Homo sapiens: one gene and its partners. The gene in region 1 interacts genetically with each later gene. Each region holds a gene or a part of one and is shown in the gene's direction. Other genes may lie near its edges.

Region 1 (3,746 bases):
CTGGGGTGGGCAGGGGCGTGTGCAGATGGCATTCAGGCCTGCGTTTGCAGCTGCAGTTCTCAGAGGTGCTGGCCAAGTGGAGGTGCTTCTTTCACCAAATGGCTGTGGAGCAAGGGCAGGCGGGCCTGGCTGCCATGGACACCAAGCTGGAGGTGGCGGTGCTGCAGGTGGGGCAGCCTTCCCCTTCCCCACTCCTGTGGCTTGTGAGGGGGTGGGCACCGTGGGGTCACACGGGGCATGGTGGGCAGTGGTCGGAGGTGGTTTTGGGAACTCACCCAGGGCATGTGGCTCACTCTGCAGCTGCTGGGGTTGGCCTGGTGGGGAGGAGGAGGTCAGAGGGACTCTGAACAGAGAGGGGAGATGCTGGCAGGAGGGCTGGAGACCCAGCCCTGCAGGGCGTGGGCGTGCATCAGCAGCGGGGTGGGAATAGACCTGTCTATGCAGTAGAAACAAACCAGACATGGATCCTGTTCTTACTAACGATGTAATAAAGCCAGAAACAGCACCAGAGGCCAATGGGTGGGGGGAAGGATAAAATATGAGTGAATGGGGCTGATCCAGGCCTTCTCACTTCTCAAGGAAAGTGTCGCAAAGTTGGGCATCGCATCCAGGGCTGAGATTGAGGACTGGTTCACGGCAGAGACCCTGGGAGTGTCTGGGTGAGAGCAGCCCCCAGGCTGAGAGGACACGAGCATCAGCCATGGTTCCAGCCAAGCCCCAGTGACGTCTCCCAGTCCTGGCTGCCCTGCCTGAGAGGGTGGGCCCTGGGATGACAGTGCTGAAGGAACTGCTTTTCACACAGCAGGACTTGATGGCTTCAGGAGTCCCTGAGGCTGGGGCTGGGCTGGGCAGGGGAGACACAGGGCCAGCACAGACCCCATAGAGGGCTCTTTATAGAATTATCTGGGTCCAGAGCAAAGGTGGCACTCTCAGCCCTCCCTGGAGTCCACGCCGGCAGGTGAAGGATCAGAGCCCCATGCCCCATCCTTGGAGCCAGGGGCTGGGACCCAGATCACCAGGAGCCTCCAGTTGAAGTGGGGAGGTGACTGGGGTGGTGCAGTAGTGAGCCATCCCCTCACACACTGCCAGCCTTGCCCACTGTGTCCTCCCTGGCCGCCCGGAGCTGTGTCCGCCTCCTGCCTGGCTGCCTGTGCTCGGCCCCTCCACAAGCCCAAAACAGCCTAGGGTACTCAGTGTTTTCAGAGCCGCCTAGATGCAGGACTGTTTGTGTTTTGGTTTTAAATTTATTTAATTAATTTATTTTTTATAGAGACCAGGTCTCACCATGTTGCCCAGGCTGGTTTCAAACCCCTGGGCTCAAGTGACCTGCCCGCCGCAGCCCCCAAAGTGCTGGGATTATAAGTTTGAGCCCCCGCATGCCACTGGTTTTAAATTTTTAAACAGAAAACAATATTTATATTTCCTCTGTCTTTTAAAACTGAACACCGAGGTGGGTTTTGTGGTGGGTGGTGAACGGACAGGTTTGGGCCTCGATCCCCCACCCGACCCTAGCACCCACAGGTGGGGGTGCCCCCTCTGCTGATGCGCCTCCTCCCTCAGCACCATGGACCTGCTGGACTGGAGCAGCCTCATCGACAGCAGGACCAAGCTGTCCAAGCACTTGGTAGTCCCCAACGCACAGGTAACACCTCCGCTCCTCAGTGAGGCCCAGCTCAGCAGGGCGCTGCGCTAAGAAGGGAATTCAGCCTGCCACGTGTGTCTCTTGTTGCCTACCCTGGGAACTTAACATGACCAAAATCACTGCACACTATGGCCCCACAGACCCCCTGTGGTCCAGGGGGAAGAAGACAAGCCCACTAGTGTCCACAGAGTGCTTGGCGGGACAGAGACCCACGCGGAGCCTTAAGACACCACAAGGAGAGGGGGTCTGGGGGCCTTCCCCAAGTCATCTGTCTTGTGCATCAGGTCACCCCAAACTTCAGAGGCCTGAAACGGCAGCAGCCACTCTGCTTCTGCCTCATGGTTCTGGGGTTGACAGGGCTCAGCTGGGCAGTCCTCCCCTGGGGTCTCCTGGGTAGCTGTACTCACAGAGTGGTGGCGCTGGGACCTGGGGGAGGCACCCATTCACATGTCTGGGAGTTGGTGCTGGCTGTGGCTTGGGCTTTTTCCCAACATGGCAGCTGGGCTCTAAGGGCCAGTGTCACCTGAGACGTGAGAGCCAGGCAGAAGCTGGGTGACCTTTTCCTGCCTCGCCTCAGAAGTCACACGGTGTCTTTTCTGGCAAGTTCTGTTTGTTAGAAGCATGTCACCAGGCCAGCCTGTATACAGCGGGGAGAGGAATGAGACTCATCTGCCTGTGGGAGGGGGGCCCAGGACCTGGCAGACTGCTTGAAACCACAGCTTAAACTGGGATTCAAAGAAAGAACAGAAGCACCTTCAGAAAACATCCTGCAGAGGCAGCTTTCCATGACACATCTAGCCCCAGTCCACTAAGGGCCCAGCCTCAAACTTAGAGCCCCCGACCCAGAGCCTCGGGGCGCAGTGCGTACAGTGTGGCTGTGCACCAAGGCCACCAGCTGTTGGAGACTTTAGCATGGTGTAGCAAGGGATAGAGTGGTACTGTTTGTGCCCAGTGAGGCAAGGCTGCTGGGGCCAGCAAAGGGGTGAGCGGGAGGCCCTGCGGGATGGGTCCCCACGGCCTCTGAGCACCAGCAACTTGAAGGCCTCATCCTGGTGGTTGCCCTGGTCCCTGGCTACGTGTCAGCACGTGCTGCACAACTGCCCTGTCTGCCTGTAGCCAGGGGTCTTCCTCCTGGGCCCTCTGCCTGCTCCGGGTGGAGCCCTTCTGTTTGACGATTGGGTGATCAGTGTTCACTTGTTCAATGTCACATGGGAGTTGCAGGGGGCTCTCCCACAACGGTGGGGCCTCTGTGGGAACTGGGGAGTACACACTTCGGAGTGCAGGCCTGGACTGAGCCTGGGGCCCACTGACATGGGCACTGAGCTCCCTCGTGGTACCCCTAGGCCCCGCATAGGGCAGTGCACTGGCTGCGTTGGAGGTTCAGGGGCACTGTGCTGCTTGTCCAGGTGGCCCTCCCTCCCAGCCCTGCACAGACGGGTGAGAGGGTTCCTGTGGGCTGGGAATACTGAGAGAGGTTTAGCCTGGGCCTCAGGGTGGCACTTTCCCGCCCTTGCTGTGGCCTGACCGCGTGTTGCACCCCCAGACAGGACAGCTGGAGCCCCTGCTGTCCCGGTTCACTGAGGAGGAGGAGCTACAGATGACCAGGATGCTACAGCGGATGGATGTCCTGGCCAAGGTGAGCTGTCCCGCTCGGGCAGAGGGTACCTGGGACTCGTGGAGAAGAGGGCACCTGCCTCACTTGAGCAACAGTTGCTCCCACTCTCCCACCCCCTGCGCCTCTCAGAAAGCCACAGAGATGGGCGTGCGGCTGATGGTGGATGCCGAGCAGACCTACTTCCAGCCGGCCATCAGCCGCCTGACGCTGGAGATGCAGCGGAAGTTCAATGTGGAGAAGCCGCTCATCTTCAACACATACCAGTGCTACCTCAAGGCAAGCCCCCGCTCAGCCCCTCCCTGCCTGCCCTGGGGCTTGGAGACCCCACAGGAGGGGCTCCTCTCATCTGAGCTCCCTGGCATTTGGCTGGTTTTACACTCAGCACCCACCAGGGAGCTCATGGGATGGAGGAGGGAGTGGGCCGTGCCCCCAAGGGGTTGTTGGGGTCTTCTGCAGCACAGCTCACCCAGCGGGCCCCAGGGTCCAGGA
Region 2 (3,746 bases), on another chromosome or scaffold:
CCCTGACCAACATAGAGAAACCCCGTCTCCACTAAAAATACAAAATTAGCCGGGCATGGTGGCACATACCTGTAATCCCAGCTACTCGGGAGGCTGTAATCCTAGCTACTCGGGAGGCTGAGGCAGGAGAACCGCTTGAACCCGGGAGGCGGAGATTGCAGTGAGCTGAGATCGCACCATTGCACTTCAGCCTGGGCAACAAGAGCAAAACTCCATCTCAAAAAAAAAAAAAACATAAAAGATTAGGTGGAGGTTGCAGTGAGCTGAGATCGCGCCACTGCATTCCAGCCTGGGCAACAGAGCAAGACTCCGTCTCAAAAAAAAAAAAAATTTAAAAAGCGTCTTGAAGGAGTTGGGGGGGGAGAGAAGACAGGGCCGCCAGGGCTCTGAGCGCAGCGCCAGCCTGTGTGGGGCATGCAGGCTGTGCCCCACGCCTGTGTTGGGAGAGAGAGTAGATGGGGTGCCTGGCCCTGTGAGTGGTTGTGAGTATGTGTGTCCGAGGGCAAGGGGGACTCTGTCCCGGCTGCATGGGTGTTAGGTCCACGGCATGCCCCGGGTGTGTGTTGTGCGTGCGTGCACTTGCACGGCATGTGCGTGCATGTTGACATGGCAGCCGGTGCACCTGTGGCTCCTGTCGGCAGACACGTGCCCTCCAGCCTCTCGCTCTCTCTCATCCGTTCTCTTTCTCATCCTCACCCTCTTGCTCTCACTCCACCCTCCTGAGCTGCCATGTGGCCATCACCACCTCTGTGGCCTCTGTTCTCAGGGCCTTTGTGTACCTCCTTCCCCCAGTGCCTACCTGAACCCTCCCTTCCATCCCCCCATGCTCCAGTCTGTGGTCCGGCAGCCTCCTCCCCAGGCTCCGGGGCCACCCTCGGAAGGCCTGGTGGGCTCTGTCAGGGAAGGGGCCCACAGGACTCCTCGAGGGCTGTGGTCGTCAACCGCTGAGTGCAGGGTGTGAGCGGGACTCGGATACTCTCTGAGGGCGGGAACTAGGCAGTGTCTCAAGAGATGCCAGGTGCACAGGGGTTGGGGGCTGGGTTGGGGGGAGCACAGGCCCTCGGGAGCCAGAAGGGGACTGGGGCTGTGGCTCAGGCCATGGACAGAGCAGAGGCGCAGGGACCTGAAGAAGCAGAGGGAGAAGCCTGGCCAACATAGCGAGACCCCATCTCTACTCAAAAGACAAAAATTAGCTGGGTGTGGTGGCGTGTACCTATAATCCCAGCTACTCAGGAGGCTGAGGCAGGAGAATCACTTGAACCTGGGAGGGGGATGTTGCAGTGAGTTGAGATCACGCCACTGCACTCCAGCCTGGGTGACAGAGCGAGAACCTATCTCAAAAAAAAAAAAAAACAGTGGGAGGTGACGTGGTGCTGCAGAGGCGGCAGTGGCCAGGACAGCGGGAGGGGCACGGGAGGTGAGGCCTCTAGGCCAGTCATGAACGCTGGGCCTGGCTGTGTCCCAAGGTCCCCAGAGCCCTTCCCCTGCTCCTGCCTGGTCCTCCAGGAGGGGAGCTAGGGGGCACAGCTCCTGCAGGGGCTGGCAGGACCAGATAGGGGCAATGCTGGGCCTCCTGCATTGGGACTGAGGCGTCTTCCTGCCCCTCCTACTGGCTGAGATCAGGGTCCTGGGCACACGGGAGGGACGGGGTTTAGCTGCCAGCATGGAGCGGGTTTGTCTGTTCATATTAGTCCCTGGGCACCAGTCACCAGGAGCCTGCAGAACTGTGGGGAGAAAAGGTGGACGAGGCAGGAGGAAAAGAGGGGAGAGGGGCTTGTTGGCTGAGGGCTTTGGAGAGCGGCAGGCCCCAGCTCCTGTGGGAGGGGCACCTTGGTAGGTGTGTGTAGCCGTTGTCAGGGCCTCTAGGATGTGACGTGTCAGGATTGGCTCCTCTGGAGGCCACGTTAGCATCCCGGCCTCTGTTCCTGCACCCTGTTGCCAGCCCAGCCAGGGAGACCCTAGCTCCTCCGGGAAGCTGCCCTCCTGTCCCAGGCCCCTCTCTGGCCTGTCTCTGCAGCGCCTCCTCTGGGCACCTGGGCCCTAGTCTTGGTTCCTGTCTGTCTGTCTGTCTCCTGCCCTCCCACCCCTAATGCCGCCTGCCCACCCCAGGGTGCCTGCTGCCTGCCCGCCGCCTGCCCACCCGCTGTAGCATGCCCGAGCTGCCCGCATGCAGGCTGCTGGATGAGCCAACCCCCGCCTGGCCCAGCATTGGCCCCACCTGGTCCCGCCAGCCCCTGCAGGAGCTGTGCCCCCGAGCTCTCCTCCCAGAGGATGCAGGCCCCCTGAGGTCCTGTCCTGCCCCCATGGGCCCCAGCTCTGCAGGCCAGGCCAGGAGGCCCTCATGTCAGCCCACTGGCCCGAGGGGGGCCCTCCCTGACCCCGGAACAGAAGATAGGGCAAGGCAGCCTGAAGCCTGGGTCTCGTGCCCGCTGCCTCCCCAGCGTGGCCCTGCTCGCTCTTGTCTGGGAGCCAACTTCAGTGCTACCAGCAGAGCCACAGCCTGGGCCAGCCCTGGCAGGCACTCCGCCCTGGCCTATCCATCCTGTGGGTGCTGTGGCCCTGGGCCTGCTTCCTGGGCAGAAGTGGGAGGAAGTGCACACACCTGTCAGGGAGGCCCCCTGGCCGAGGGACACCTCAGGTCCCCATCTCGTTTCTCCGTCAGCGTAGACTTGGGGCTCCCTCTCCCCTGCTAGCCTCCTCCATCTCTTTCCAGGTCAGGGGATGAGACAAGGGACCCTGAGAACAGTCTGGGGTGGGAGGGAGACCCCAGCTCCTCCAGCCCAGCAGGGCAGGGGGCTGTGCCAGCCTAGCTCGGGAAACCCAGGAGGGGAAGGTGAGGGTCCCGACCCCTCCCTGGAGTGCCAGATGTGGAGCTGACACCAGCTGGGCGCTGACCCCCCTCCCTGCCACTGGTTCTCACCCCCCTAGCCCTGCAGCTCCCGCTGGCCAACGATGGGGGCAGCCGCTCGCCATCCTCAGAGAGCTCCCCGCAGCACCCCACGCCCCCCGCCCGGCCCCGCCACATGCTGGGGCTCCCGTCAACCCTGTTCACACCCCGCAGCATGGAGAGGTGAGCCAGGGGCCCAGCAGGGTTGGGTGGGAAGCAGCATTGAGGGGCCACCGTGCCAGCCCTGGGAGGAGGGTGGTTAAACCGGTGGGAACCCCGGTATGGGGGACTGGGGTGGCCAACCTAAGGTCAGGACCCACCTCCACCGGCACCTGCTCCATGTCCCCAGCATTGAGATTGACCAGAAGCTGCAGGAGATCATGAAGCAGACGGGCTACCTGACCATCGGGGGCCAGGTACCACCTTCACTGTGGCGGGGAGAGGGAGGAGGCCCAGCCAGGCTGGACCCATCCTGGGAGCGCCAGTGGGGGGCAGGGGGCGGTGGCAGAGGCCCCAGGGACCCTCCAACCCTCCCTCTCCTCCCAGCGCTACCAGGCAGAAATCAACGACCTGGAGAACTTGGGCGAGATGGGCAGCGGCACCTGCGGCCAGGTGTGGAAGATGCGCTTCCGGAAGACCGGCCACGTCATTGCCGTTAAGGTGAGCCTTGGCGGCTACCCCGGCTGCGCCCCACACCCCAGGCCGGTGCTGAGGCTCCCTCCTGTCCCTGCCTGTGCAGCAAATGCGGCGCTCCGGGAACAAGGAGGAGAACAAGCGCATCCTCATGGACCTGGATGTGGTGCTGAAGAGCCACGACTGCCCCTACATCGTGCAGTGCTTTGGGACGTTCATCACCAAC
Region 3 (3,409 bases), on another chromosome or scaffold:
CCCTGAGGGCAGGCTTTGCCCTGGATGAGGGTGAGCAGGTTGGCAAGCCAATGAGCAGCCAGGCAGGGAGTAGGAGGCTGCTAGTGGGGACTGAGCTGCTCCACCCTCTGAACCCCCTTTCCCTCCTCAGGCATAGCCAATCCCACTGATGCCTTCACTGTCTTTTATAGTGAGCGGAGTCCCTGGTGTAAGTATGAGCTTGGAGGGAGGGCTCACTCTACAGGCGGGAGGCTAGGCCAGAAAGGGCACGGTCCTATGCAGGGTTGCACAGCAAAGTTGAGGCCTGAGAAGGCCTTGAACCCAGGGCCTCTACCTCCCAGCTCTTTCCTATCTGAGCTTCTCTGAGGGCAAGCCCTGAATGGGCAGAAACCAGCTGTATGCTACGGGCCCTGAGTGGGGACAGGACCCTGCCAGAGGAGCCTGGAATGAGGGGGAGACCTGGGCCCACCCCAGGCTGATTGTGTCTCCAGCCCCTCAGGCTGAAGACACTGCCTTCCCCCTACACCTCCCCAGGGGTGCGGGTTACCAGCACTGGGAGGCCAGGCCATGCCTCACGCTTCATGGAGGACACAGCAGCAGAGAAGCTGGTACGTGGCACCCCAGGAGGGAGTCTGGGAGTTCAGGAGGCTCTATCCTGAGGCCACTGTCCCATTTAACCTCATATTCTCATAGCACAAGGTTGTAAACTCCATCCTGGCATTCCGGGAGAAGGAATGGCAGAGGTGAGGCAGCCTGGGAGGCAGTGGGGTGGCTCTGGGAGGCGGTACCACAGAGGATAGAGTCTGAGCCACCTCTTTTATCTGTTGCTGCCGCTACCCTGCCCCCACACCACAGGCTGCAGTCAAACCCCCACCTGAAAGAGGGGTCCGTGACCTCCGTGAACCTGACTAAGCTAGAGGGTGGCGTGGCCTATAACGTGATACCTGCCACCATGAGCGCCAGCTTTGACTTCCGTGTGGCACCGGATGTGGACTTCAAGGTGCCACCTCCACCTGGGTTTGGAGGAGGGATCCTGGGTCCTCAGTCTTGTCCTAGAGGCCTCTGGAAAGCCTGAAGGATCAGCTCGTCTCCCTTCTCTTAGGCTTTTGAGGAGCAGCTGCAGAGCTGGTGCCAGGCAGCTGGCGAGGGGGTCACCCTAGAGTTTGCTCAGGTATGGACTTGGGACATGTGATGGGAGAGTGTGGGAGCCGGGGGAGACCCAAGTGTGCAACAGTGGAGTGTGTGCTTGGTGTGTCTGCATATGTCTGGGCATTTCTTTATCTGTGACAGACACATTTTATTCCAACAAGCATTCATTGTAGAGGCCACTGTGGGTGCTGGGGAATGCTGTGGGGAGTAAAATTAGGCACAGTTCATGCCCTTGTATGGTGAAACGGGGAGATATAAATCAAACATTTATGTGATATTACTTTTTTCTGAGAGAATCTCACTCCGTCACCCAGGCTGCAGTGCAGTGGCACAATCTCGGCTCACCTCCGCCTCCCGGGTTCAAGCAATTCTTGTGCCTCAGCCTCCAGAGTAGTTGGGATTACAGGCACCTGCCACCACGCCCAGCTAATTTTTGCATTTTTAGTAGAGACAGTGTTTCACCATGTTGGCCAGGCTTGTCTCGAACTCCTGGCCTCAAGTGATCCACCCACCTTGGCCTCGCAAAATGCTGGGATTACAGGCATGAGCCACTGCGCCCAGCCGTACTTTCATATAACCCATGTGGTACAGGAAAGGGTGGCCCCTTGCACTCTGAAAACCTGTAACTGGAGTATCCAACTAGTCTGAGAGGTCTGGGGGAGCCATCTTGAGGAAGGGGCACTTGGGCTAGGATCTGAAGGATGGACAGGAGGTAAGTAGACGGAGGGTGGGAAGGTCCCAGACCTAGGACATTTGAGGGGCTGAAAGAGGACCTGTGGCTGGACTGGCTACCCAGATGTCTGGGTAGGTGAAGGAGTGGGGGTGGGGAGGTGTTATGTACTAGGCACAGCCCACTCTATGGGAAATAGGGCAAGATGCCCAGGCCCATGTCCTGATCCTGCCATTCTTCCTGTCCCTCAGAAGTGGATGCACCCCCAAGTGACACCTACTGATGACTCAAACCCTTGGTGGGCAGCTTTTAGCCGGGTCTGCAAGGATATGTGAGCACGCTGGCCAGCTCTCCTCACAGCCCAGCCCCCTACTCCTCTCCTTCCTGCTGCCCCCTCCCTTCTCCCTCCTTCTCCCACCTCTTTCCCACCTTCCTTTGCCCCTTCAATTCTTCGCTTTCTCCCTCCCCATTCATCAGGCTCTTTCTCCTACAGGAACCTCACTCTGGAGCCTGAGATCATGCCTGCTGCCACTGACAACCGCTATATCCGCGCGGTGAGCCACTTGCATATAGTGCCTGGGCAGTGGACTGGGCCTGAGTGCTGGCTTTTCCCTAACGGCTCTTCCTCACCCCTGCAGGTGGGGGTCCCAGCTCTAGGCTTCTCACCCATGAACCGCACACCTGTGCTGCTGCACGACCACGATGAACGGCTGCATGAGGCTGTGTTCCTCCGTGGGGTGGACATATATACACGCCTGCTGCCTGCCCTTGCCAGTGTGCCTGCCCTGCCCAGTGACAGCTGAGCCCTGGAACTCCTAAACCTTTGCCCCTGGGGCTTCCATCCCAACCAGTGCCAAGGACCTCCTCTTCCCCCTTCCAAATAATAAAGTCTATGGACAGGGCTGTCTCTGAAGTACTAACACAAGGACACTCGTGGAGCAAGAATTTTCCTTTTCCTGGGGACATGTTACCATCTCCATTTCACAGATGAGGAAACTGAGCCTGGCTGTTAGCACTTCCCCACTACCCCACACTGCTCTGTGCCCCTTGACACAGCACACCCATTCAGTACCATCCAGCCATGTCTGTGCCTAGCAAGAAAGGGCCACAGTTCCTATTTGAGTGGCCACCATACTTAGTTCTGACCTATCAGGGATTCCATTCCCATTAAAGAGGGATACTAAGGACCTCAGGAACCACTCCCATCTTCCTGGGTGTACATCTGGGATCCTGAGACAGTACCAGAATAGCACCAGCTGGGCCCCTGCTAGATGAGGGGCAGGCAGAGGGCCAACGGTGACTGCTGGCTCCTGTCAAAACCTGTACACCCTTGTGTTGGCAGCAGGGGCCACAGAGGGGCAGGGTCCCTGGTAGACTAGGTCAGTTCATCTTAGAGGCCTCAGCACCCTGGATCTGTGTGTGCAGAGGCCCAGGAACTGGGCTTTCATCTCAGCCTTGCTAGGACCCCCAGGTAGTACCAAGAGTAAACTATGGCCCCAGTAGCAGAGCCTGATCTAGCCAGATCTGCTCTATCCTGTTCTGACTTCCCTGAGCATGGGGCAGGAGAGACAGGGCTGGGGTGGGATAGTTGGATTTTTTAAGTTTCTAGTT
Region 4 (3,666 bases), on another chromosome or scaffold:
GCCCACATTGTAAGGCTGCTGGGACTATGCCCAGGGTCATCTCTGCAGCTTGTCACTCAATATTTGCCTCTGGGTTCTCTGCTGGATCATGTGAGACAACACCGGGGGGCACTGGGGCCACAGCTGCTGCTCAACTGGGGAGTACAAATTGCCAAGGTGAGAGAAGCCTGGAGGAATTCTGTGATAAGAACTGCTTGTCTGGGGGCCAGCCAGGAAAAAGTGAGAAGGTTGAAGTTCTGAGAGGTGAGGTCCCCAACCCCCGGGCTGCAGACTGGTACCAGTCCATGGCCTGTTAGGAACCAGGCCACAGAGCATGTGAGCGGCAGGCAAGCGAGTGAAGCTTCATCTGTATTTACAGTCAGTCCCCATCACTTGCATTACCGCCCGAGTTCCGCCTCCTGTCAGATCAGGGGCAGCATTAGATTCTCTTAGGAGCTTGACTTCTATTGTGAACTGTGCATGTGAAGGATCTAGGTTGTGCACTCCTTATGAGAATCTAACTAATGCCTGATGATCTGAGGTGGAAAAATTTCATCCCAAAACCAACCCTCCCCTTCCCCTGGAAAAACTGTCTTCCACAAAACCAGTCCCTGGTGCCAAAAAAGGTTGGGGACCACTGCTGAGAGGTACCTTCAAGATTTGGGGGAATTCCAGATCTCAGTGACTGATTCCCCCAACCTTAAGAATACTTTCTTCCCCTATACCTACAGGGAATGTACTACCTTGAGGAACATGGTATGGTGCATAGAAACCTGGCTGCCCGAAACGTGCTACTCAAGTCACCCAGTCAGGTTCAGGTGGCAGATTTTGGTGTGGCTGACCTGCTGCCTCCTGATGATAAGCAGCTGCTATACAGTGAGGCCAAGGTGAGGAGACACAAAGGGTAAGGAGGCGGGGGTGGAGTGAAGCATGGGGATAGGGAGCAGCCAGTGGTCTCTTCCAGAGGCAAGCAGATGCTTCATGGTAAGTTCAAGGAGAGAAGGCTGCAGATGCCAGATATTTTAGTTCAGAGGGCAACAAATAAAATAATGATCAAGAACTTGGGACTGGCCGGGCGCGGTGGCTCACGCCTGTAATCCCAACACTTCGGGAGGCCAAGGCGGGTGGATCACAAGGTCAGGAGATCAAGACCATCCTGGCTAGCACGGTGAAACCCCGTCTCTACTAAATATACAAAAAAAAAAAAAATTAGCCAGGCGTGGCGGCATGCATCTGTACTCCCAGCTACTCGGGAGGCTGAGGCAGGAGAATGGCGTGAACCCAGGAGGCGGAGCTTGCAGTGGGCCGAGATCGCACCACTGCACTCCAGTCTGGGCGACAGAGCGAGACTCCGTCTCAAAAAAAAAAAAAAAAGAATTTGGGACTTGGAAATCCTAAGAAAATTTGTGGAAATAAACTTGTGATACCTCTATCTTTAATCCGCAGACTCCAATTAAGTGGATGGCCCTTGAGAGTATCCACTTTGGGAAATACACACACCAGAGTGATGTCTGGAGCTATGGTCAGTGCATCTGGATGCCCTCTCTACCATCACTGGCCCCAGTTTCAAATTTACCTTTTGAGACCCCCTCTTAGAATCTCTAAGCACTTCAGATTTTTGTGTTAGATCAGGTTCTGCCTTCCCTTCACTTCATGCCCATGTCTACTATTTTGCCAGTGACTAGTCCATGTCTTCCTGCAACAGGTGTGACAGTTTGGGAGTTGATGACCTTCGGGGCAGAGCCCTATGCAGGGCTACGATTGGCTGAAGTACCAGACCTGCTAGAGAAGGGGGAGCGGTTGGCACAGCCCCAGATCTGCACAATTGATGTCTACATGGTGATGGTCAAGTGTGAGTTACCTGCTGAGCCCAACCATTTTCTCTTTTTTTCTTTTTTTTTCTTTTTTTTTTTTTTTTGAGACAGAGTCTCACAATTGTCACCCAGGCTGGAGTGCAATGGTGCAATCAATCTTGGCTCACTACAACCTCCGCCTCTCGGGTTCAAGAGATTCTCCTGCTTCAGCCTCCGGAGTAGCTGGGATTACAGGCGCCCGCCACACCTGGATAACTGTTACACTTTTAGTAGAGATGGGGTTTCACCATGTTGGCCAGGCTGGTCTCAAACTCCTGACCTCAGGTGATCCGCCTGCCTCAGCTTCCCAAAGTGCTGGGATTACAGGTGTGAGCCATCATGCTCGGCCTGACTGCAGCCATTTTCTGACTTCCCTCTGTACTCCTCTTATGGCTCTATTCCTTTTTTTTTTATGGAGTCTCGCTCTGTTGCCCATACTGGAGTGCAGTAGCGTGACCTTGGCTCACCGTGACCTCCACGTTCCAGGTTTAAGTTCTTCTGTCTCAGCCTCCCAGATAGCTGGGACTTTAGGCGTGCACCACCACGCCCAGCTAATTTTTTTTTGTCTTTTTAGTAGAGATGGGGTTTCACTATGTTGGCCAGGCTGGTCTCAAAGTCCCGACCTCAGGTGATCCACCCGCCTTGGCCTCCCAAAGTGCTGGGATTATAGGTGTGAGCCACCGCGCCCGGCCATGGAATGTATTCTCTTTTATGTCTCTACCTCCTACATCTTATCTCCAGGTTGGATGATTGATGAGAACATTCGCCCAACCTTTAAAGAACTAGCCAATGAGTTCACCAGGATGGCCCGAGACCCACCACGGTATCTGGTCATAAAGGTGAGTAGGGAGTAGGAGGTGCTAAGGAAATTTAGAAAAAGGAGGAGTTGGCTGGAACCAGGATTCCCCCTAACAATCACCTATCGATATAGAGAGAGAGTGGGCCTGGAATAGCCCCTGGGCCAGAGCCCCATGGTCTGACAAACAAGAAGCTAGAGGAAGTAGAGCTGGAGCCAGAACTAGACCTAGACCTAGACTTGGAAGCAGAGGAGGACAACCTGGCAACCACCACACTGGGCTCCGCCCTCAGCCTACCAGTTGGAACACTTAATCGGCCACGTGGGGTAAGACAACTTCTAATTACCCAACACTTTGCACCCTGAGCCCTCACAAACCCTACAGATACCCAGATTAACTACTCAAAGGCCCCCATGGTGAATGTAGATTTCTCCCTTCATCTTAACCTTTTCCTTATTTTTTCATCCTAGAGCCAGAGCCTTTTAAGTCCATCATCTGGATACATGCCCATGAACCAGGGTAATCTTGGGGAGTCTTGCCAGGTAAGTTCTGTTGCTGAGAGGCTGGGTTTTAGGATCAGATTGATACGAGTAGTATGGAAGACATTAGAAACCTCTGAGGTTTAATCAGTGTCCTGCAAAAAAGAAGGCAGTGAGGGCCGGGCGAGTTGGCTCACACCTGTAATCCCAGCACTTTGGGAGGCCAGAGAGAGTGGATCACCTGAGGTTAGGAGTTTGAGACCAGCCTGGCCAACATGGTGAAACCCCGTCTCTACCCAAAATACAAAAATTAGCTGGGTGTGGTGGTGCACACCTGTAATCACAGCTACTCAGGAGGCTGAGACAGGAGAATCGCTTGAACCCGGGAGGCAGAGGTTGCAGTGAGCTGAGATTGTACCACTGCACTCCAGCCTGGGTGACAGAGCAAGACCCTGTCTCTTAAAAAAAAAAAAAAAAGGCCAGGTGCGGTGGCTCACGCCTGTAATCCTAGCACTTTGGGAGGCCGAGGTGGGCGGATCATGAGGTCAGGAGTTCGAG

The links.
Region 2: changes in PRODH (region 1) and MAP2K7 together harm fitness more than expected from each alone (negative genetic interaction), as found in Homo sapiens cells (one large-scale study listed by BioGRID).
Region 3: changes in PRODH (region 1) and ACY1 together harm fitness less than expected from each alone (positive genetic interaction), as found in Homo sapiens cells (one large-scale study listed by BioGRID).
Region 4: changes in PRODH (region 1) and ERBB3 together harm fitness more than expected from each alone (negative genetic interaction), as found in Homo sapiens cells (one large-scale study listed by BioGRID).

What each region holds. Positions count from the first base shown.
Region 1 is NC_000022.11:18,919,238-18,922,983, reverse strand, and holds part of PRODH (proline dehydrogenase 1, mitochondrial isoform 1 precursor), read left to right. Parts: intron 1-50; coding exon 51-167; intron 168-579; coding exon 580-659; intron 660-1,560; coding exon 1,561-1,642; intron 1,643-3,185; coding exon 3,186-3,278; intron 3,279-3,386; coding exon 3,387-3,533; intron 3,534-3,746. UniProt on the Homo sapiens protein: Converts proline to delta-1-pyrroline-5-carboxylate.
Region 2 is NC_000019.10:7,906,827-7,910,572, forward strand, and holds part of MAP2K7 (dual specificity mitogen-activated protein kinase kinase 7), read left to right. Parts: intron 1-2,928; coding exon 2,929-3,070; intron 3,071-3,236; coding exon 3,237-3,303; intron 3,304-3,433; coding exon 3,434-3,547; intron 3,548-3,626; coding exon 3,627-3,746. UniProt on the Homo sapiens protein: Dual specificity protein kinase which acts as an essential component of the MAP kinase signal transduction pathway. Essential component of the stress-activated protein kinase/c-Jun N-terminal kinase (SAP/JNK) signaling pathway.
Region 3 is NC_000003.12:51,986,475-51,989,883, forward strand, and holds the end of ACY1 (aminoacylase-1), read left to right. Parts: coding exon 1-30; intron 31-130; coding exon 131-187; intron 188-513; coding exon 514-587; intron 588-672; coding exon 673-722; intron 723-834; coding exon 835-979; intron 980-1,081; coding exon 1,082-1,150; intron 1,151-2,049; coding exon 2,050-2,129; intron 2,130-2,291; coding exon 2,292-2,352; intron 2,353-2,436; coding exon 2,437-2,601; 3' UTR 2,602-2,723; downstream 2,724-3,409. Other genes in the region: ABHD14A-ACY1 readthrough (NMD candidate), read left to right, coding at 1-30, 131-187, 514-587, 673-722, 835-979, 1,082-1,150, 2,050-2,129, 2,292-2,352 and 1 more. UniProt on the Homo sapiens protein: Catalyzes the hydrolysis of N-acetylated amino acids to acetate and free amino acids.
Region 4 is NC_000012.12:56,097,075-56,100,740, forward strand, and holds part of ERBB3 (receptor tyrosine-protein kinase erbB-3 isoform 1 precursor), read left to right. Parts: coding exon 1-156; intron 157-710; coding exon 711-866; intron 867-1,425; coding exon 1,426-1,501; intron 1,502-1,684; coding exon 1,685-1,831; intron 1,832-2,573; coding exon 2,574-2,671; intron 2,672-2,763; coding exon 2,764-2,955; intron 2,956-3,099; coding exon 3,100-3,171; intron 3,172-3,666. UniProt on the Homo sapiens protein: Tyrosine-protein kinase that plays an essential role as cell surface receptor for neuregulins.